Regions from separate parts of the Homo sapiens genome. Here all the other regions are linked to region 1. The links come from fine-mapping of genetic effects on gene expression. A gene starts in region 1. Each other region holds a variant in brackets. All regions are shown on one strand. Distances are from middle to middle.

Region 1 (5,000 bases):
GACATGGTGAGGTCAATGGTTGACCTCTTCTTGTAGACTTCTTGAATGCAATGCTCAATGACAAATTTTTCTCTCTTGTGGCTAAATAAATTGTGACATGAAGTCTTGCTTATTGGATTTTAATATTATTAGTCTACAAAAAAAAATCCTGGATTTTCAGAAAGTAAAAAATTCACACCCATACAAAATAAGACATTGATCAGCTTAGGGTTGCTGCTTCCGTAAATACCTCCTCTCTCAGCATGTGGGCTCCGTGGGGAAGAAGCCAAGCCCTTCCTGGTGTTCTGGAAAACTCACCCCCTTAATTAGAGGGTTTTGTCTATACTGCTGCTGGTGGCCGCCAGGATTGCAACTTCCAATGTGGCCAATTCTCCTTCTCAGGTGCCCTCAGAGTGACCAGAGGAAGGAGATTGTGAGGCTGCAAGGGGGAGTGTCTGTCATCGCTAAAATAAGAAAAGTCTTCCTAACAGGAAATCCTTCCGGCAAGGCAGGAAATAATTTCGGAATCTTAAGTTTTGAAGAAAACACATAGCCATGTATTCTTTTTTTTTTTTTTTTTTTTAAATGGAGTGGGGACAGCGTCTCCCTCTGTTGCCCAGGCTGGTGCAATCATAGCTCACTGCAGCCTCGAACTCTTGGGTTCAAGTGATCCTCCATCTCAGCTTCTCAAATAGCTGGGATTACAGGTGCATGCCAGCTAATATATATATTAGCTGGGTGGCAGAGGTAGAGCCTCACTATGTTACCCAGGCTGATCTGGAACTCCTGGCCTCAAGTGATCCTCCCTCCTTGGCCTCTGAAAATGCTGTGATTATAAGTGGGAGCCACTGTGCTGAGTCGTGTACTCTTTAAGGGACTAAATTGAGCATTATGGTGTGAAGGCTGCTGAGCAGTTGTGTGAGTTTCTCTTTTTATTTCACCTGGGTGATCTCTTCCACCAAGGTGTAAGAAGTCTGGACTCTTCTGTGCTAAAAAACAAACTCTTAAGAAAATCTAGCAGAAGGCATCTTAACACTTGTCTTCTTCTGCCATAATCTCTTTCACTTTTTTTCCCCCTTTTGGGAGTAAACCTTACTATACCTGATATCTCCGGTTCTCTGCCACCAATTGAAATTTGCCTGGGGCCAGTTCCACAAGATCTTCATAGTCTACAAACTTAAAAAAAATTAGGATTTTAACTTTTTTTTTTTTAATTATACTGTAAGTTCTGGGGTACATGTGCACAACGTGCAGATTTGTTACATAGGTATACATGTGCCATGTTGGTTTGCTACACCCATTAACTCATCATTTACGTCAGGTATTTCTCCTAATGCTATCCCTCCCCTAGCCCCCCACCCCCTGACAGGCCCCAGTGTGTGATGTTCCCCTTCCTGTGTCCATGTGTTCTCGTTGTTCGACTCCCACTTATGAGTGAGAACATGCGGTGTTGGGTTTTCCCTTCTTGTGTTACTTTGCTGAGAATGATGATTTCCAAAAGATCTAGAGCCAAAGAGATAGCTGTTGGTATTCATTATTTTATATTCTTTCCTCTACCTCTGGGCAATCACAATTTTGTATAAAATGATTTCTTTAGTATATTTCTATTTGCTGGTTACGTCTCAGAGGTGTCCAAATGGAGGGTAACAACACCTTCGCATTTGTTGGACATGGGAATTCATTTTTGAGTTTGCCAGCAGGTGGTAAGACAGAGATCAAAACAACCCAGTGATTAGGTGGGTGTCTGGGGAAGTATCTGGGTAGACCCTGGAGGCATTTGCAGTGTCTGACTGGACAGACATGAACCATACATCTCCCCAAGTTAAAAATGTAGGTATTTTCTAAAAGGAAATGCCAGTTAGAAATGACTGAAAAAGCACAAACACATTTGGATGTCTTGGCTTCAATTTGAGATTTCTAACACACTCTGGTGGCTTTTAAGTGTTGGAAAATATGATAGTTTCAAAGCAGACAGAGTGATATTTTCCCTTTGTAAATATGCCGTCATATTCTCTGGCATTTTTATAGGTAATCCACTCTGCAAGTATTATAAGCCTTTGCATTTGCTGGGATGTTCCCATAACATGCTTCGCTTTTCTGGCATAAAAATAGCTCTTGTATGACTTTCAGAAACAGACTTTCAGTCCAAGACTTTCCTTACATTGGAGATGGCTAAGGGACAAAAGTGGAGACCTGTACTCCATGGGAATTATTCTTGTACTTTTCCACCCTGCCTGCTATCTTCCGCTTTAATAGGAATACTTAAAGTGCTCTTATTACAAATATCACTGTTCACTTAGATATGAAAAACAGTGTGCTTTGATAATGACTTTTCTTATACTCTTAGTAAAAGAGTGATAATATTTCTTCATCATCATAACAGCTAGTAATTATTAAGCACTTACTAGTCCAGGCGCTCTGCTAGAAGAGTTTACACTGTGTCATTTAATTCTCAAAGCAAACCATTGGGTTAGGTCTATTCTTACCCCCAATTTTTTAGGTGAGGAGTGAGCAGCTCTGCTCCATAAATGCTACGCTCTGATGCCTGCCCATTGATCTTGACTTAATTTTCATGCAAAACCTGTTAATGCTTTAAAAGGTAAATATACATTCCAGTAATTATAACAGTAAACACTTGCACTCAGATGAATTTTATCTTAAGTTTCCATTACACACAGAATAAGGCCATTGAATAGCGATTCCAATAGATGATTTACTGAGCTCATGAACAAGCCAACAGCAAGGAGTGATCTGTAAGTACTTACTTCAGAAAGTCCATTTATGGGGATTTCGAAGCCTGATACTTCAGAAAGAAAGAAGCAGATGAAAAAGCACGTGAGTCTTTTCATTTTGCTGGACAGTTTTGCCAAGCTCCCCAAAGCAGATGGTCTGGGGAGGATATCACTTCTTCCTACTGAACCAAGTTCAAAGGAACAGCAGAGGAGTACAGTTCGCTTTAAGAAAGAAGAAAAAAGAAGAAAAAACTCTCTAACTTTGTTCAAAATTGGGACAAATATTTGTTCTGGAGCTCAAACTTGAGCTGTGTGGGTGGATCGAACACCCAGAGGTTATTCAAACAGCAAAGTCAGAAGCAGTTGCTTACTGTGAGGACAAGTCAGGGGCAGATGGATGTGCTTGAATGTGCTTGTGTGCTTTTATTTTATTTTTATTTTTTATTTTTTGGCTTTTGCTGATTTCTATTGATCTTAAAATCAGAGAGACCTACAGATAATTGTCATCCTTTCTAAAGGACCAAGTGCAGAACTATTCCAAGAAACAAAATCCTTTGATCTAAATGAAAGCAGGAAAAATTTAGAAAAAGTGGGAGAAGACACAGAAGGGTTTTTCTGAGCAAAGAATTCATTGTGCATGTTTTCCCCTATCTCTTTGATGACTGTCTACCTGTTACCTATAAAGACCCAGGCAAGTGGCTGTGCAGGATACTAGGGCAGATCTTCAGTGAGAATGCTTCGTGAATGTCTTTGATTAAGGTAACAGTGTCTGTCCTGCTGCCCCTATCAGCCGGGCTCAGGTCAGTGGCAAATCAATACTCCCCAGTCTCAGAATTGGAGTGCAGTGGTGAGATCAAAGCTCATTGCAGCCTCAACTTCCCCCGGCTCAAGCAATCTGCCCACCTCAGCCTCCAGAGTAGCTGGACTACAGGTGTGCACTACACTGCCTGGCTATTTTTTGTAGAGATGGGATTTCATCATGTTGCTCATCCTGGTCTTGAACACCTGGGCTCAAGCTATCTGCTTGCCTCAGCCTCCGAAACTGCTGGGATTCCAGATGTGAGCCCCCATGCCTAGCCTCCATCCTGGTCAGATTCTATTTTTCTTGCAACAAACAGGAAATGTAACTTCTTGGATGCAACACTGAAATAGGAAGCTCCAGCTGTGGGCAGAATTACAATACAAGGGAGGTTGTCTTATCCTCAGGACCAAGCACCCCAGGCCAACTTCTGGGATCCTGGAGCTCCTTGCTACATTTAAAGCCCAATTCACAGGGCATGCAACAGAGAGTTTTCTGCATTTTCCTCCCTAGTTTCCCCTCAGTCTTCGAAATTGCACAGCCGTGTGTCTGCTGGAGAAACATAACTTCTGAAATAATGGAAGGGAGAAAACAGATTCTCCCCTCCCTTGCCTAGGTTGGACTAGTTGAGCGCCCACCTTGGCCAGTGAGTGCCTCAGTGGACCCCTCATGGAAAAATCCTGCCACAGCTTTGCATTCTTGACTGAGATACTGTTTCTGGAGAATTAAGACCCAATGGCAGCTGGGCGCGGTGGCTCACACTTGTAATCCCAGCACTTTGGGAGACTGAGGCGGGTGGATGACCTGAGGTCAGGAGTTTGAGACCAGCCTGGCCAACATAGTGCAACCCCGTCTCTACTAAAAATACAAAAATTAGCCAGGTGTGGTGGCATGCGCCTGTAATCCCAGCTACTTGGGAGGCTGAGGCATGAGAATTGCTTGAACTGGGGAGGCGGAGGTTAGAGTGAGCTGAGATCACGCCACTGCATTCCACCTGGGCAACAGGGCAAGACTTGGTCTCAAAAGAAAAAAATAAATAAATAATAAAAAACCCAATGGCATGTTCTCCCAAAAACAGCAGTGACTTTCAAAATCATACCTCCTTCCATTGATCATTTCCTTTCTGATTATTTTAATCTGATATTCAGAATTATCTCAGAATAAACCAAACCAAAAGCAGGCTGGACTTTTTTCCATGCTGATACTCTGTCTTCAGATCCCAAAGTCCTTTTTTTTTTTTTTTTTTGAGAGGGAGCGTCACTCTGTGGCTCAGACTCAAGCGCAATGGCATGATCTTGGCTTACTGCAACCTCCACCTCCCAGGTTCACGCGATTCCCCTGCCTGAACCTCCCAAGTAGCTGGAATTACGGGCGTGCACCACCACAACTAACTTTGTATTATTTTTTTTAAAGTAAAGATGGGGTTTCACCATATTGGTCAGGCTGGTCTCAAACTCCTGACCTCGAGTAATCCACCTGCCTCAGCCTCC
Region 2 (11,278 bases), 130 kb before region 1:
TCCTGCCTCAGCCTCCCGAGTAGCTGGGACTACAGGCCCATGCCACCATGTCCAGCTAAATTTTGTATTTTTAGTAGAGACAGGATTTCACCCTGTTGGCCAGGCTGGTCTTGAACTCCTGACTTCAAGCAATTTGCCCACCTTGGCCTCCCAAAGTGCTGGGATCACAGGTGTGAGCCACCACGCCTGGCCAGATTTTTAAATTTTTTATAGAAACAAGGTCTCACTATGTTGTCCAGGCTGGTCTCAAATTCCTGGGCTCAAACGATCCTCCTGCCTTGGCCTCCCAAGTGCTGGGATTATAGGCATGAGCCATCACACTCAACCAAAGCTCTTTTCATTTTGATGCAAAAAAGAAAACTCCTCTCCATAGGTATTTTTGGTAACTGTAAGCAGTTGGAGAGCCAACAAAGTGTTTTATAATGTGGGATGTGTTAATTTTTTGTCTAATAGTTTCGTTTAGAGGATAAGGACAGTTCAGACAAGAGATAAAGGTTTAAACAAAGGAAGTGATGCAATAATATTTTGGAAATTTTTTAAGAAAGAAAATTAGCAGAATTAGAGATAGGGAATGAAGGAGAATGAGAGAAGAGGTCAATGCTAATTCTCATGTTTCTAGCTTAGGTGACTGAGTAGAGATGGTGCCACCAACTGAGATGGATAACACAGGTGTATTCGTGGTAAGAAAATGTGGAAATGGGCCGGGTGCAGTGGCTCACGCCTGTAATCCCAGCACTTTGGGAGGCCAAGGTGGGCAGATCACCCAAGGTCGGGAGTTCAAGACCAGTTTGACCAACATGGAGAAACCCCGTCTCTACTGAAAATACAAAATTAGCTGGGCTTGGTAGCTCATGCCTCTAATCCCAGGTACTCGGGAGGCTGAGACAGGAGAATCACTTGAACCAGGGAGCCGGAGGTTGTGCCATTGTACTCCAGCCTGGGCAACAAGAGCGAAACTCCGTCTCAAAAAAAAAAAAAAGAAAGAAAAAAGAAAACGTGGAAATGGCCAACTGCAACTGGTTGCAGGGTCTGAGAGGTGGATGTAGAGGGACAGTTTGGGGAGGCATCAGCATACAGATGGGGGTTCAAACTATGAGAGTAGGAAAGTCAACTCTGAAACTAAGTAACGTGAGAAACATAGTAGGTGAAGGATAAAATTTTAGAAGCACCAATGTTTTAGCAGTAGGAGAGCCAGGGAAGACGTGCCCAAGAAAGGCCCCAAGATGGAGCTCATCATATAAGGAGAGTTAAGGGAGTATGATGGCGCTGAAGAAAAGCAGCTTCAGGAATTGCCCAACAGTGATGAAAGCAGCAAAAAGCTTCAATAAGGGGAATCCTGGGAAGAAAGTGGTAGCTGGGGCAAGGTAGTTTGTGCATCTTCCCAACATAACCAGGTGACAGAGTACACCCATCAGTGCCAAAATACATGCAGGTGACAACATGCCACCAAGCGCCATGAGACCCGAGTATGAGGCATCTATGCAAGGGAAACAGTGAGAAGCAACGGGAAGACTGACCTGAAACAGGAAAACCCCAAAAGGGCCACCAGGCCTCTGCTGGAAAGCCCGGCAGGCCAACCCGAGAAGAGCGGCTGAGGCTGGGAAGGATGGGACCACTTCCAGTACAGGGAGTACAAGGGGCTGAGTGAGATCCAATGGGGCTAGAAGTTGAGCCCAGGAGCTCTCAGACTTGACCCTGGCTGCTCTCTGCCAGGACAGAGCCTCGCTGAGAGGACACAGCTGGCAGTGGAATCACAGCTGGCCAGAAAAAGGAAAACTGACATGAAGGGAAGAGAAGATCCAGGTAAAAGTGGTGGAGGAAAACAAACAAAAAATCTCAGTGAGCAAGTTCCCATATTTGGAACATTCCGCAAAAACGATAGAAGAGGGAGCACTGCAAAGTCAGAGGAGCTACCCTGAATCTCCTTCTAAAGCAAGCTTGTC[A/CA]ACCCACAGCCCATGGGCCATATGCGGCCCAGGACGGCTTTGAATGCAGCCCAACACAAAGTTGTAAACTTTCTTAAAACATTATGACTTTTTTGTGTGTGACTTTTTTTTCTAGCTCAGCAGCTATCGATGGTGTTAGTGTATTTTATGTGTGGCCAAAGACAATCCTTCTTCTTCCAGTGTGACCCAGGGAAGCCAAAAGATTGGACACCTGTGTTCTAAAGGCTCAGAAAACTAACTCACATATAGTTTCTATAAAGAAGAGAAGACTAAATAGCAAAACATCCCTCCAGACAATGAAAGTACGAGAGAAACACACACTCGAAAAAACTGATGAACCTATAATGTTCTATCTTGAAATGATCTAAAAGACATGAAAGTATATAAATCAAAATCAGAAAAAACTCAGAAATTAGGTAGCAGAACTCAAGACAGTAGCTATATGATCTGACAAGATACACACGGTAAAATGAAAGAAAATTGGTTTCATAGGACAGAATGAGCAAAAAAAATTTTTTTTACCTGTTTCAGTAATCATGAATGATAGTATCAGTTGCAATATTGTACGTGTAATCTGGGATAAAGCAAATGAATAATTATGGAATATTCTAATTTTATCATCTTCTTTATTCCTGAGAACCAGAATTCTCAGTATGGATGACAGTATTTATGGATGTAACATAAAAAATAAAAACCTTGTAGTCCTAAATATGAATTGGAAAATCTGCATGAACTCAGGAGGAACCCTATCCACCTATCTATCTATTCACACACATCTACATGTATATAAATATTTATTTACTTATTGCCTAGAAACAATGAACAACCGAGTTATATATAATAAGTATCCCTTAGCACCGAGACTGTGTACTTGAAATGCTATTTCCCAGCGTGGAGACAACTGGATATCCATATGCAGAAGAATGAAATTGGATCCTTATCTCATACCACTTAGAAAAATCAACTCAAAATGGAATAAAGACCTAAATGTAAGACTTGAAACTACAAAACTGCTAAAAGAAAACATAGGGGAAAAACTGTAAGACACTGGTCTGGGCAATTATTTTTTATATTTGGCCCCAAAAGCGCAGGGTGACAAAAGCAAAACTGAACAAATGGGATTCCATCAAAATAAAAAGCTTTGGCACAATAAAGGAAACAGCAGAGTGAAGGCACAACCTGTGGGTGAGGAGGAAAACACGTGCACCCACACATCTGACAAGGGGCTCACGCCCAAAACATGTAAGCAACTCAACAACAACAAGAGCCACAACCACCACCAAAAAAAAAGGCAAAATATATAAGGAACCCAAACAACTCTATAGAAAGAACAGTCTGGCTGTTGTCCTGTGCCGGAGGACAGCAGGCAGCCATGGTGCCCAGCGGGAATGGCAAGATCTTGAAGCCCCACTTCCACACGCACTGTGCAGCGGCTGAAGGGGTACCGCTCCAAACTCATCCTCTTCCCCAGGAAGCCCTCGGTCCCCAGGAAGGGAGACAGTTCTGCTGAAGAACTGCAATTGGCCACCCAGCTGACAGGACCAGTCATGCCCATCCAGAATGTCTATGAGAAGGAGAAAGCTCAAGTCACCACTGAGGAGAAGAATTTCAGAGCCTTTGCTAGTTGCTGCATGGCCCGTGCCAATGCCTGGCTCCTCCACATATGGACAAAAAGAGACATGGAAGCTACAGAACAGGATGTTGAAAAGAAAAACTGAAGCCCTCTTGGGGACTTGTAATAAATCAGCAGTATTGCTGGGTCCCCAAAAAAGGAAAAAAGAAAACCCTACAGAAAGAAATAATCCAATAAAAAATGAATAGACATTCCTCAAAATAAGACATACAAACTGCCAACAAATACATGAAAAAATGTTCAACATTACTAATCATTACAGAAATAAAACCACAGTGAGATATTACCTCACACCTGTTAGAATGGCTGCTATAAAAAAGATGAAAGGTAACAAGTGTTAGCAGGGATGTGGAGAAAAGGGGGAATCCTTGTACACTGTTGGTGGGAATTTAGATTAGTAGTCATGGAAAACTATGTGGAGTTTCCTCCAAAAACTCAAAATAGAATTACCATATAATCCAGCAACCCCACTCCTGAGTATTTACCCAAAAGATTTGAAAAGATTATGTGGAAGAGATTCTGCTCTCCCAAGTTCACTGCAGCACTGTTCCCAATAGCCAAGTTACAGAAATAACCTAAGTGTCCATTAACAGATGAGTGGATAAAGAAAATGTAATATATATACACCACAGAATACTATTCAGCCTTTAATAGCACCACAGGGTGACTAAAGTCAACAATAATTTATTGAACATTTTATCTCGAACTCCTGGCCTCAAATCATCCTCCTGCCTCAGACTCCCAAAGTGACAAGATTACAAGTGTGAGCTACTGCACCCTGTACATTTAAAAATAACTAAAAGAGTATAACTGGAATATCTGTAGCACAAAGAAATGATAAATGCTGGGCCAGGTGCAGTGGCTCATGCCTGTAATCCCAGCACTTTGGGAGGCTGAGGTGGGCAGATCACTTGAGGCCAGGGGTTTCAGACCAGCCTGGCCAACATGGTGAAATCGCATCTCTACTAAAAACACAAAAATTAGCCGGGTGTGGTGGTGGGCACCTGTAATCCCAACTACTGGGGAGGGTGGGGCACAAGAATCACTTAAACTTGAACCTAGGAGATGGAGCTTGCAGTGAGCTGAGATCACACCACTGCACTCCAGCCTGGGTGACAGTGCGAGACTGTCTCAAAAATAAATAAATAAATAAGAAAGAAATGATAAATGCTTCAGGTGGTAAATATCCAATTTAGTCTGATGTAATTACTACACATTGTGGTGTGCTTTTATTAAAATTCTTATGTACTCCATAAATATTTATACTTACTGTGTACCCATAAAAATTAAAAAGTATTATTATTCAGCCTTTAAAAAAAGAAGGAAATTTTGTCATTTGTGACAACATAGATGGAATTCAAACAATTCTGCTAAGTGAAGTAAGCCAGGCACAGAAGGAGACATACCACATGTTCTCACTTATATGTGGACGAAAAGAACCAAATTCCAAGAAGCAGAGAGTAGAACAGTGGTTACAGAGGCTGGGGCAGGGGATGTGGGGATGTGGGGATACAGAGATGATAGGCAAAGGGTACAAAGCCTCAATCTGACAGGAGGAGTACTTTTTTTGATACATTGCACAGCATGGTGAAAAAGAAAAATAATAATGTATTACACATTTGAAAATCATTAAGAGAGTAAGTTTTAAATGTTCTCTCCACAAAAAACGATAGGCATTTGAGGTGACAGGTATGTTAACTAGCTTGACTTAATTATTCCACATTGTATTTATAAAACATAACATCGCTTTGCACCCCCCAGATATATACAAATGTAACCTGAAATTTTATAATTAAAAAAAATTAAAATTAAAAAAAGAAAAGAAATACTACTTTCCAAGAAACCAGGGTTTCCTGGACAGATAATTTATACCAAGCATAGAACATGACTATACATGCTGAGTCTAGAACATTTTGATATACCAGAAGGTGAGGACGTCACCAAAGCCAATTCGGGTCATGTGTCAAAAGGACTCAGAAGCAAGAGTGAAGAAGCTGCCACTGGCCAAAGATGCAACAATTAAAGCTACAATATGGGTAAAAAACTGTAATGAGGCCGGGCACGGTAGCTCACTCCTGTAATCCCAGCACTTTGGGAGGCCGAGGCAGGAGGATCACAAGATCAGGAGATCAAGACCAGCCTGGCCAACATGGTGAAACCTCGCCTCTACTAAAAATACAAAAATTAGCCGGGCGTGGTGGCACATGCCTGTAATCCCAGCTACTGGAGAGGCTGAGGCAGGAGAATCCCTTGAACCTGGGAGGCAGAGGTTGCAGTGAGCCAAGATTGAGCCACTGCACTCCAGCCTCGGCGATGGAGTGAGACTCCATCTCAAAAAAAAAAAGTAATGAATGAAATCCGTCAAGTATGTTTAAATCTGTGAGTTCACAATGATAGAGTATTAAATGAAACTAGTCACCTGCTAAGGATAACAAGGAACCAATTTATTCTCATGAAAACTGGGAATATACCATATGAAAAAAATCAAGCGTTAACCCTGCTTTCCCTATATAAACTATGCCATTAAGTTACTAAATAGTGGATGAGGAAAAGGATTTTCTTATAAAGTTATTTCAACTAAAGAATGAAATAAAAACAAAGTGATAGTATTATCATTACTTTGTAACCCCTAATGAATTAATGGATCTAGGCACTGAGCATCAGCACTGCTAACACCAACAAAAGTGAAAACTGGACATCATCAGCTGATATCTTGCCAAACCTAAATCTGGTCAAGCCTCAGATTCTTGCTGCCAATTTTGAGAAACACATTGAGCTGCATTATGAGTGCACAATGCGCAACATCCAACTGTGGGGCACTCTGCAGATCAAACAACCCAGATTTCTAACAAATAAACTGTAAGACAAAGAAAGGAATGGAAGGAGAGTCACAAACTAAAAGGTAAATGACATGGTTGGGCGGGGTGGCTCACGCCTGGAATCCCAGCACTTTGGGAGGCCGAGGCTGGCGGATCACTTGAGGTCAGGAGTTCCAGACCAGCCTGGCCAACATGGTGAAACCCCGTCTCTACTAAAAATACAAAAATTAGCCAGCCACAGTGGCATGCACCTGTAATTGCAGCTACTCGGGAGGCTGAGGCAGGAGAATCGCTTGAACCCAGGAGGTGGAGTTTGCAGTGAGCCGAGATTGCGCCACTGCACTCCAGCCTGGGTGACAGAGCAAGACTCCTTCTCAAAAAAAAAAAAAAAAAAAAAAAAAAAAGACATGTAAAGTGAAAAAGGTGTGCATGTGTGAAGAACATTAAATTAATGTGTCTAGGGATACGCATTTGGCTGATAAAACTATAAAGCTAAGGAGTAATTCCTACAAAGTCAGGACAGTGGTTGGTTATTTTTGGAGGGAGGGAGGAAGGGGTGGGGTGGGGTTGGGCACATAGAAGCTATTCTGAGATAGCTGGTAAAGTTCTGTTTCTTGAACTGGGAGAAAGGGTTTAAATTTCCTTCAGATCAACCATTTAGATAGTAATTGGTGTTCACAGCAAGAACTGCTTCAAGAAAAGGATGGCAGGAGCTTGAGAAAGAAATGGCAGGTACTGAAGTGGACATAGATTCTTGAGTCCAAGGAGTGCAAAAGGTCACACGGGAAGATGCAGAGGAGCCCCATCTGCCAACTAGGTTATTCTTGGGAAGGGGGAGGAAGGGAAGTGAAGAGACACTTCCATTTCATAACGAATTCACTTGGCAATATATTTTTTCAGCAAGTTTGTATTACTTTTGTTAATTTTTTCAAACATGTAAATGTTTACTTTTAAAGGGTTTAATAATAAAAATAGAAATCTTAGTGGGGAAAGAGAGAAATCCCCATGCAGAAGAGTTCCTAACAACATATGCAGATATTCCACCTTCAAAGCGGGACGCATAACTCCCATTCCTTAAGGGCGGGCTACGCACAGTGACTTCTTTCCAAAGAGCACAGTAGGGGAAGAGGGGATAGAAGAGAAACTTTACTGTGAAGAAACCAGATAAACACTACCCCAGCCATGTGATCACCATCAATATCAACAGTGATAAATTATGATGACAGGATAGACCTTTGATATGATGTCATAAAAATGGCCCTTGACCTCTGTGGTCTTTCTCCCCAAGATCTCATAACCCCAGTCTAATCATGAGGAAAACATCAGAAAAATTCCACTAGAGGGGCATCCGACAATATACCTAACCAATAATCCTCAAAACTGTCAAGGTCGTCAAAAACAAGAAAAGTCTGAAAAACTGTCACAGCCAAGAAAAGTCTAAGGAGACGTGACAACCAAACACAATATGATATCCTGGATGGGATCCAGAAACAGAAAAAGGACATCCAGTAAAAACTAAGGAATGTCAATACAGTGCGGGCGTCACTTAATAATAACATGTCAATATTGTTCATTAATTGTGATACACGTACCATAGTCACGTAAAAGGTTAATAACAGAAGAAATGGTTCAGATGTGAGTGAACTCTCCAAACTAACTTCTCAATTTTTTCTGTAAATCAAAACTGTTCTAAAAAATAGTCTATTTTAAATTTTAAAAAATAGAAACTCTAAAAGTGGCAACCTCACAGTATCTTTACCAAGTTTAAGTTGAGCTTGGTAAGTTTCCTGCAATAAGTCAGGGTACATGGTTTATATTCCTTTTTTTTTTTTTTTTTTTTTTTTTTTTGAGACGGAGTCTCACTCTGTCACCCAGGCTGGAGTGCAGTGGCACGATCTCGGCTGACTGCAACCTCTGCCTCCCGGATTCAAGTGATTCTCCCATCTCAGCCTCCCGAGTAGCTGGGACTACAGGCACCACCACACCCAGCTAATTTTTGTATTTTCAGTAGAGGCAGGGTTTCACCATGTTGGCCAGGCTCGTCTTGAACTCCTGACCTCAAGTGATCCGCCCACCTCGGCCTCCCAAAGTGCTGGGATTACAGGTGTGAGCCACTGCGCCCAGCCTATATTTCTTTCTTATGCAAATATTTTGAACCAATCAACAGACCCCCCCAGAAGACCCCCATTGACCAGTGATCTAGAGACCACACTGTGAGAACCAACAATGACTTTGGCATAGTACGCTGTACTATTTTCAGACATTCCTCAGCACAATAAAATAGGAAGCAAAAAAATATGGTATTGGTGTGAATCTGAAAATATGTATGGCAAGCTGGGGAGAGAATGTTCTTGGATAAAACACACTGGGTACCAGCCATCAGAACTGTAACAGTCCAAGCAAAAATATGCATGTATAAAATATTTTCAAAGAGGTCTCACTTCTAAACATATAATCAGATAAAGCAGGCAATAACTCCTTCCACATCATCTCCTCATCTGTCATCTTCACACTGCGGATAATCACACAGCTCCTCAGTCAAGTACCTATCCAGCCCAGCTAGTAAGTCTGTTCCCTCAGATCCTCAGCACGTGATGGTAACACTACTTTACATTGATTCGTCTCTTTTTTTCAGAGACAGGGTCCTGCTATGTTGCCCAGGCTGAAGTGCAGTGGGCATTCACAGGCTCAATCATTGCGCACTACAGCCTCAAACTCCTGGGCTCAAGCGATCTTCCTGCCTTGGCCTTCCAAGTAGCTAGGACTATGGGTGTGCCACTGAATGCAGCTTGACACCGATTCCCCTTATAGCGTGACTTCACTAATGTATATTGTATTTCAATTCAAAAGTAAATTATTTAAGAGCAAGAAAAGAAAAAGGGGACGAGAACTAATATTCGCTGTCATGTGTTTTATTTTTTTTTGAGACAGGGTCTCGCTGTCACTCAGGCTGGAGTGCTGTGGTGTGATCATAGCTCACTGCAGCCTTGACCCCTGGGCTCAACTGATCCTCCCACCACAGACTCTGATAGCTGGGACTACAAGCGTGCACCACCATGCCCAGCTAAGTTTTTGTTTTTGTTTTTTTTTTTTTTTTTGAGACAGAGTCTCGCTCCGTCACCCAGGCTGGAGTACAGTGGCACAATCTCGGCTCACTGCAAGCTCCACCTCCTCTGTTCACGCCATTCTCCTGCCTCAGCCTCCCGAGTAGCTGGGACTACAGGCACCCGCCACCACGCCCAGCTAATATTTGTATCTTTAGTAGAGACGGGGTTTCACTGTGTTAGCCAGGATGGTCTCGATCTCCTGACCTCGTGATCCGCCCGTCTCCGCCTCCCAAAGTGCTGGGATTACAGGCGTGAGCCACTGCGCCCAGCCAAGTTTTTTATTTTTAGTAGAGATGAGGTCTCATGACGTTGCCCAGGCTGGTATCAAACTCCTGGGCTCAAGCTTCAGCCTCCCAAAGTGCATAAGCCATCACACCTGGCCCACTGTTATGTATTTTATATGTTAAACACTGTCCAATTTTATATAAATGTGTTAACAAAAAAAAATTACTTGATTCTCCATTTCCCCAATGTGGTAGGTGTTATTACACTTATTTTACAGATGAATATAAAGTTCAGAAAGGTAAAGTGACTTGGGAAGACCAGAAACTCAGTGACTCGCTGAGTCATGTCTCAGTGATGCCGTGAGGTCCACGCTGTGCCTCTCACAGCCTGCTGCCCCTTCAGGCCTTCTATGTGTGCACACTCGCCAGCTCCAGCTGCTGTGGAGGGAGACTTTCACAGGCTTTTTTGACATGAACCAAGCTGAGTGGCTGATAAGAGGGAACCCCATGGAAGGACCTTGCTAATAATATTTTAAGACCAAAGTCTGGCCTGTCTGTGGCTCTTAAGGAAATAAAAGGAAAATAAAGAGCATGGTGAACAGCATCATTATCAAAGGGGTTCACCTCTGTACCTCACTTTGCACCACTAATCAGAATACCAGGAACTTTCTAACATGCTGTACCCATGAAAAAAAAATATTTCAGATTGTAAATGACAAGAAATGGTCTTGTATGGTTATATTTTTAAATGGTAACCAAAGAATTGCATTTTATATCCTTTTCTTATGAAGAGGAGAACGTTTTGACAAGCATCTTACTGTACTGCCTACCACTTACTGCATCCTTATAAACCATATGCATATATTACAAATCAGCAATATTTTTCCTTCTTAATCCACATGTGTTAGATAAAAAGTGAAAAGTAGTGTTCTCAAGATTTGTTATTTTCCTTTTAAAATGTTTATAATTTATATTGTTTGCATAAAACTAAATGAGTTTCTTTTTTTGCTTCAAATAACCCAGAAAAGAAACCCAAAAATCTATAGTAATATAGTAATTTCAGCCAGAAGTCAGTATCAAAACAACACAAAACAAAACAAAAAAAACACTAAATTGTTTTTCATACTTCTTCACTACCTAATCTAAACCTGTTATCTTAGTTACATTTCCTTGCTAGTATTTAAATATGATAACCATAGCACTTTAAGAGAATTTTATTATGGAATATTTGCATGCTATAAAAATAAGACAAGAAGGACCAAATAGTTAAGTGTAGATTATGATCAAAGTCCTAGTTTTGGTTCTGGGCTGTCGGTGTGTTAGTATCATTCAGTAGAACCCACTGCAGCTAAGATCCAGAGCACCTAAATGATGAGCCACCAATTCACAACAAATCCCTACCACTTAGGTCCAGTAGCTGTCCAGTTTTTCAGATGAGGCAACCCTGACACACAGACTGTACAACAACTTATGCCAAATTTAAACATACTTCCTGAGACAAATAGGTAACACTTCAAAATGCTATTAAAGTAGAACCGATTCTAAGAAATGA
Region 3 (5,000 bases), 53 kb before region 1:
CTGATTATAAAAGAAATGTGTACTCATGCATAAAACCCCAAAAAACATAATTTAATATAAATAATTATAAAAATTAATCATAGTCCCCCAGCCCAACAATAAACCCCATTAATATTTTGGTCTGTTCCTTTCCAATCTTGGTGTTTTATGAAAGTGTGTGTAATAGGTACAGTTTTATATCCTTTTTTCCCCTCATATCGAATATAAAACTCAATTTGGCATAGTAAAGTTAGTGGGGGAAGTAAAGTCATTGTCAAGAGGGAGGGAACCACAGAGGTCAACCACTTTTTAAAATGTCTCCCCTTTTTTCATAAAGGATTTAAGGTAGCAGAGATCAATACAGTAATTTAAAGAACTCTGACTTATAAATAAAGTTGGTTATTGACTTAGAACTGATATTTCACTCACAGGTCTGTGAGTGAGGTCTGAGATATCTTCAGAAAGAAAGTTTCCTTTTAGAACTCTGAACTACTGCACTGCATATCTTTGATGCTAAACAAAAGAATTTTTTATCTCCAGTACAGTCAGTTTTAGTATTTCTGGGGGAGCTTGGGAGTAATAGCTCACTTAGAGAGTTTAATGAAAGTTTAGACTCTTCAAAACATTGCACATAATTGCCAAATTTTATTTGTTCTCTTGGGGAGTTTATAGGCCCCCTAAGCCCATGGACCTGTTAGAGAATATGTGTCTAGGAAGGTTTTCTGGAAAAACCATTTAGGTCCTTATTTGAGAGAATTCTCATTTCAGTAAATCAAGCTTTTCTCCTTTTTTTTTTTCTTTCTGATCCTGACAATGCTAACCTAGAAGCTGTTACTTGCTAACTGTTACTAACGTAAACTAAGGGGAAGAAAGGGAAAAAGGACTCCTACTTGGCATTGAGGAACATGTCAGTCTGACTAAATTAGCAGATTGAGTTTTAACAAAAAACTCTATAAGATTTTCTCTGACTCTATCAGCATAAGGCAGTAGAAAATCCAGTATTTCCTTGACAACTTGCTTATCCTTCCCTTATTAATTTCTTTTTTTTTTTTTTTTGCATGGACCATGCATGAAACTTACCTTATTAATTTCATAGTGCTATCAAATGCAGATCCTGTTTCATGTTTTCATCTCAGGGAAACACAAAACAACTGATTACTGTTGAGGCTGTGTTGAGTTCCATCTCGATACCTTTGGTTCGCAGGTTGTGTCCATTCATCAAAAACTAATTTCTCACCTTCTGCACTGTAGACCCAGTTTCATCTTCTGTACTGAGGTAGAACTTAGCAGCAAATCCACATGAAAAGCCTTTCTGTTTGATTGCAAAGCAACATGTACTTCTTTTAGAAGAGGGAATCTACCAGCTTGGCATGGTGGCTCATGCCTGTAATTCCAGCACTTTGGGAGGCTGAGGCGGACGAATCACCTGAGGTCAGGAGTTCGAGACCAGCCCGGCCAACATGGAGAAACCCCATCTCCACTAAAAATACAAAAATTAGCTGGGCGCGGTGGCAAATGCCTGAAGTCCCAGCTCGGGAGACTGAGGCAGGAGAATCGCTTGAACCTGGGAGGCAGAGATTGCAGTGAGCCAAGATTGCGCCACTTACTCCGGCCTGGGTGACAGCGAGACTCCGTCTCAAAAAAAAAAAAAAAGGGAATCTGTCTCCTAATTTTTTTTTCTTCCTTTCTTCAGCCTGTCCTCATTAAAAAAAAAAAAAAAATCTCTGTATATGCTTGTGTCATCACTTGAGCTTTGCAAGTGGTTATTTTTATCATTTCTGGCACCTTAAGTTTTCATGTCGTTGATAATATTTGAAATTTATACATATATCAAGCAGATTTTTAACATCCAATAAATTGTTCCTAAATAGCTTCAGCTTTTTAGCTATTTGCCCTATAAGCCCAAATGTCTGGCTCCCTTCTTATTCTCCAGATTTATGGTACTTATCAGAAAAATGTAATTGACCATAGACCATTAAACATGATAATGAAAAATCTAACCTAGGTTATACTT[T/C]ATCTGGGAACTTAATTCCTTTAAATATGATAATTATTTGTTGTGAAGGGAAGCAGTAAAAAAATGTTAAAATCTCAGTTCTAGGGTTAGAGTCATCATCATTGTCATCATCATTATTGTCATCATCATCATGTTATATTTTGCAAGGGAGAGGATTAACTGTCAAATTTAATTTTAATTTTATTTAATTTAATTTTATTTTATTTTATTATTTATTTTCAAGACAGAGTCTCACTCTGTCGCCCAGGCTGGAGTGCAATGGCGCGATCTCAGCTCACTGCAACCTCTGCCTCCGGGTTCAAGAAATTCTTCTGCTCCAGCCTCCCAAGTAGCTGGGATTACAGGTGTGTGCCACCATGCCCAGCTAATTTTTATATTTTTAGTAGAGATAGGGTTTCACTATGTTGGTCAGGCTGGTCTCAAACTCCTGACCTCAGGTGATCCACCTGCCTCGGCCTCCCAAAGTGCTGGGATTACAGATGTGAGCACTGCGCCCGACCCAACTCTCAAATTTTAAACAAAAGATTAAATAATAATTAGAGTTGAAAATTATTGAGCTCTCACTCATATTAAGTTCCAGGTCTAGTCACTTTATATGAAATAACTCATTTATATTTCCCAACAACCCAATCATACAGACATTACCATTATTTCCACTGGGAGATAATAAGGCACAGAGAGGAAACTGAAGGACAGAGAGGTTAAATCAATTGTTGAAAGTGAGATTTGAACTTGGGGAGTGTAGGTTCACAGCCCATATTCTTAGCCTCTGTGTTCCCAGGTTATATCCGCTTTTGTGATAGAAAATATCTTTCATTAATTAAGTTTTCCTCTTTCCCTTTTTGTTCGATATGAAAGAAGAAAATAAAGTTAAAGTTGGACTCTTTTTATAATCTGGACCAGTGTAACTATCACAGCCAACCTAGACAAACATGTTTGAGTATCGTAATGCTTACAAAATGATATTTCCTATAAAAAAAAGAAAACCCCAAATGGACAATGGCACAAACATGGTAGAAGTTAACGTTTCACTCTAAAAACCCCAAATGGGTATTTTTGATCAGGGAACTCTTTCTAAGTGGCGATTTGTGAACCCAGGGTCCTTCCAGCTAGTGCCTCTACTGCCCTCAAGTGGCATCTCCAGTTGCCATGTCTGTGTGCACTGGGCAGGCAAAAGGAGCTTGGCAGATTGTGTGTCAGTTATAGCACGTCTGGACCGTCACTTCTGTTTGCTTTCATGGGCTGGAGCTCCATGCATGGCCACAGCTAACCACAAGGGAGCCAGGAAACTGGCTATTTATCCAGGAAGCAGAGGAGATACTGAACAGCTTGCAGGTCTCTGCCACAATGTCTATTGATAACGTATGTCAGATGTCACAGAAGAAAATATGGTAGTTCTTAATGAGAATGCCATAGATTATTCTTAAAATTCATAGATGTATACAAATGTTAACAATCTTAATGGTATTTTAGGGATGCGGAAAAGGCAAATTTGTATCCATAAGTATGGTGTCATTTTTTTGTCTTTTAGGAATATGTGTTTTTAACCTTATTTTAAATTATTTTAATTTGTAGGGCCCTTTAAAAGGACGCAGAGTTGAAGGAATTCAATATGAAGACATTTCTAAACTTGCCTGAGTTTGAAAATTTGTTAACAATACATTAAAATCTTAAAGCATCAAATTGGTGTTCGCCAAGGCATTATGAGACTCTACTGTGTTAGGGTATATTCTTTTGTATAAAACAAACAGGTTTTTGAAAATATTACTGTATAGTTGTTCAGCTAAACTTTGAGAAGAATTTAATTATGTCTCATGAGGTATCAAACTATGTAATTTTGTCCTTGTTATTTTTGTTTCCTTTGTAATTTACTTGATGAGTTTATATCTTCATTAAAGAATGTTATTATAAAGTGTTTTATCTATGACAATTTAGAATCATGTAATTGGAGGAAATCCTTCATACACTCTATATTTTCAGTAGTAGAGTAGTAAAGTTGAACTCTAAGTGTGACTAAATTTTAAATGTCAAACTATAAATATAGAAGCAGCTTTATTGTGGTAATAATTCATATACCATACAGTTCACTCATTTAAAATATACATACAATTCAGTGGTTTTTAGTATTTTTGCAGAATTGTGCAGCCATCACCACTGTCTGATTTTAAAACACTTTCATACCCCAAAATGAAACCCTTTAATAGTCAATCGCTATTTTTCCCCTCTGCCCTAGCCCTAGACAGCCACTAATGTACTTTCTGTCTCTATGGATTTGCCCTTTCTGGACATTTCTTATAAATGGAATCATATAATATGTGATCTTTTATGACTGGCTTCTTACACTTAGCATCATGTTTTCAAGGTTTATCCATGCAGTAGCATGTAGGCGTGCTTCATTTGTTTTTATGGCTGCTTAATATTCCACTGTATGGATGTACCGTATTTTGTTTGTCCATTCATCAGCTGATAAACATTTAGATTGTTTCTACTTTTTGGCTATTGTGAATAATGCTGCCATGATCACCCATTTACAGGATTTTATGTGAACAGAAGCTTTCGCTTCTGCCAAACTCTTCCAGAGCAGCTATACCATTTTACAGTCCTACCAGCAATGTTGAACTATAGTTTTATTTGTTTTTAATTTTTTTACTTTTAGAGACATGGTCTCACTGTGTTGCCCAGGCTGCTGTCAAACTCCTGGGCTCAAGTGATCCTCCTGCCTCAGCCTCCCAAAGTGCTAGGATTGCAGGTGTGAGCCACAGCACCCTGCCTAACCATACAGTTTGAAATAAGTAGGGCAGTGTATTATTAGGGAATGCAAAAGACAGGAAACCCACATTTGCCTGTGCCAAAGGAAAAACGAAGGGATATTTGTAGTGCACATGACTGAAAGGAGCAGACGCTAGCTTCCAGGGCAGCGGGACCGGGTGTGAACAGCCTTCCCTGGGCTTCCGCTCTGTCTCTGGCTCCTGTGCTGGCTCTCTACATTTACATTCTTGAGCACTCT

Direction of the effects. Positions count from the first base shown, and alleles are read on the strand shown. Sizes are in standard deviations (SD) of each study's normalised expression. Not every link is listed here.
With allele A in place of CA in region 2, the expression in subcutaneous fat of the gene that starts at base 2,947 in region 1 is higher (moderate effect, 0.58 SD a copy in GTEx).

Evidence for each region. PIP is the estimated chance that this variant, and not a neighbour inherited with it, causes the effect.
Region 2: its variant is fine-mapped to the expression of ITIH2 in subcutaneous fat (GTEx, PIP 0.97).
Region 3: its variant is fine-mapped to the expression of ITIH2 in sun-exposed skin (GTEx, PIP 0.91).

What each region holds. Positions count from the first base shown.
Region 1 is chr10:7,701,263-7,706,262 of GRCh38, reverse strand. ITIH2 (inter-alpha-trypsin inhibitor heavy chain 2) reads right to left here and starts at 2,947. Exons shown (of 21, transcript NM_002216.3): 1 at 2,745-2,947; 2 at 1,081-1,155. The coding sequence starts at 2,828.
Region 2 is chr10:7,825,995-7,837,272 of GRCh38, reverse strand. The region is part of intron 2 of TAF3 (TATA-box binding protein associated factor 3); the gene reads right to left. Among named protein-coding and RNA genes, the nearest start is that of TAF3, 13 kb to the right of the region's middle. The variant A/CA (reference allele first, on the strand shown) is at 1,944.
Region 3 is chr10:7,754,711-7,759,710 of GRCh38, reverse strand. KIN (Kin17 DNA and RNA binding protein) reads left to right here. Exons shown (of 13, transcript NM_012311.4): 13 at 3,569-5,000. The coding sequence ends at 3,631. Among named protein-coding and RNA genes, the nearest start is that of KIN, 31 kb to the left of the region's middle. The variant T/C (reference allele first, on the strand shown) is at 1,994.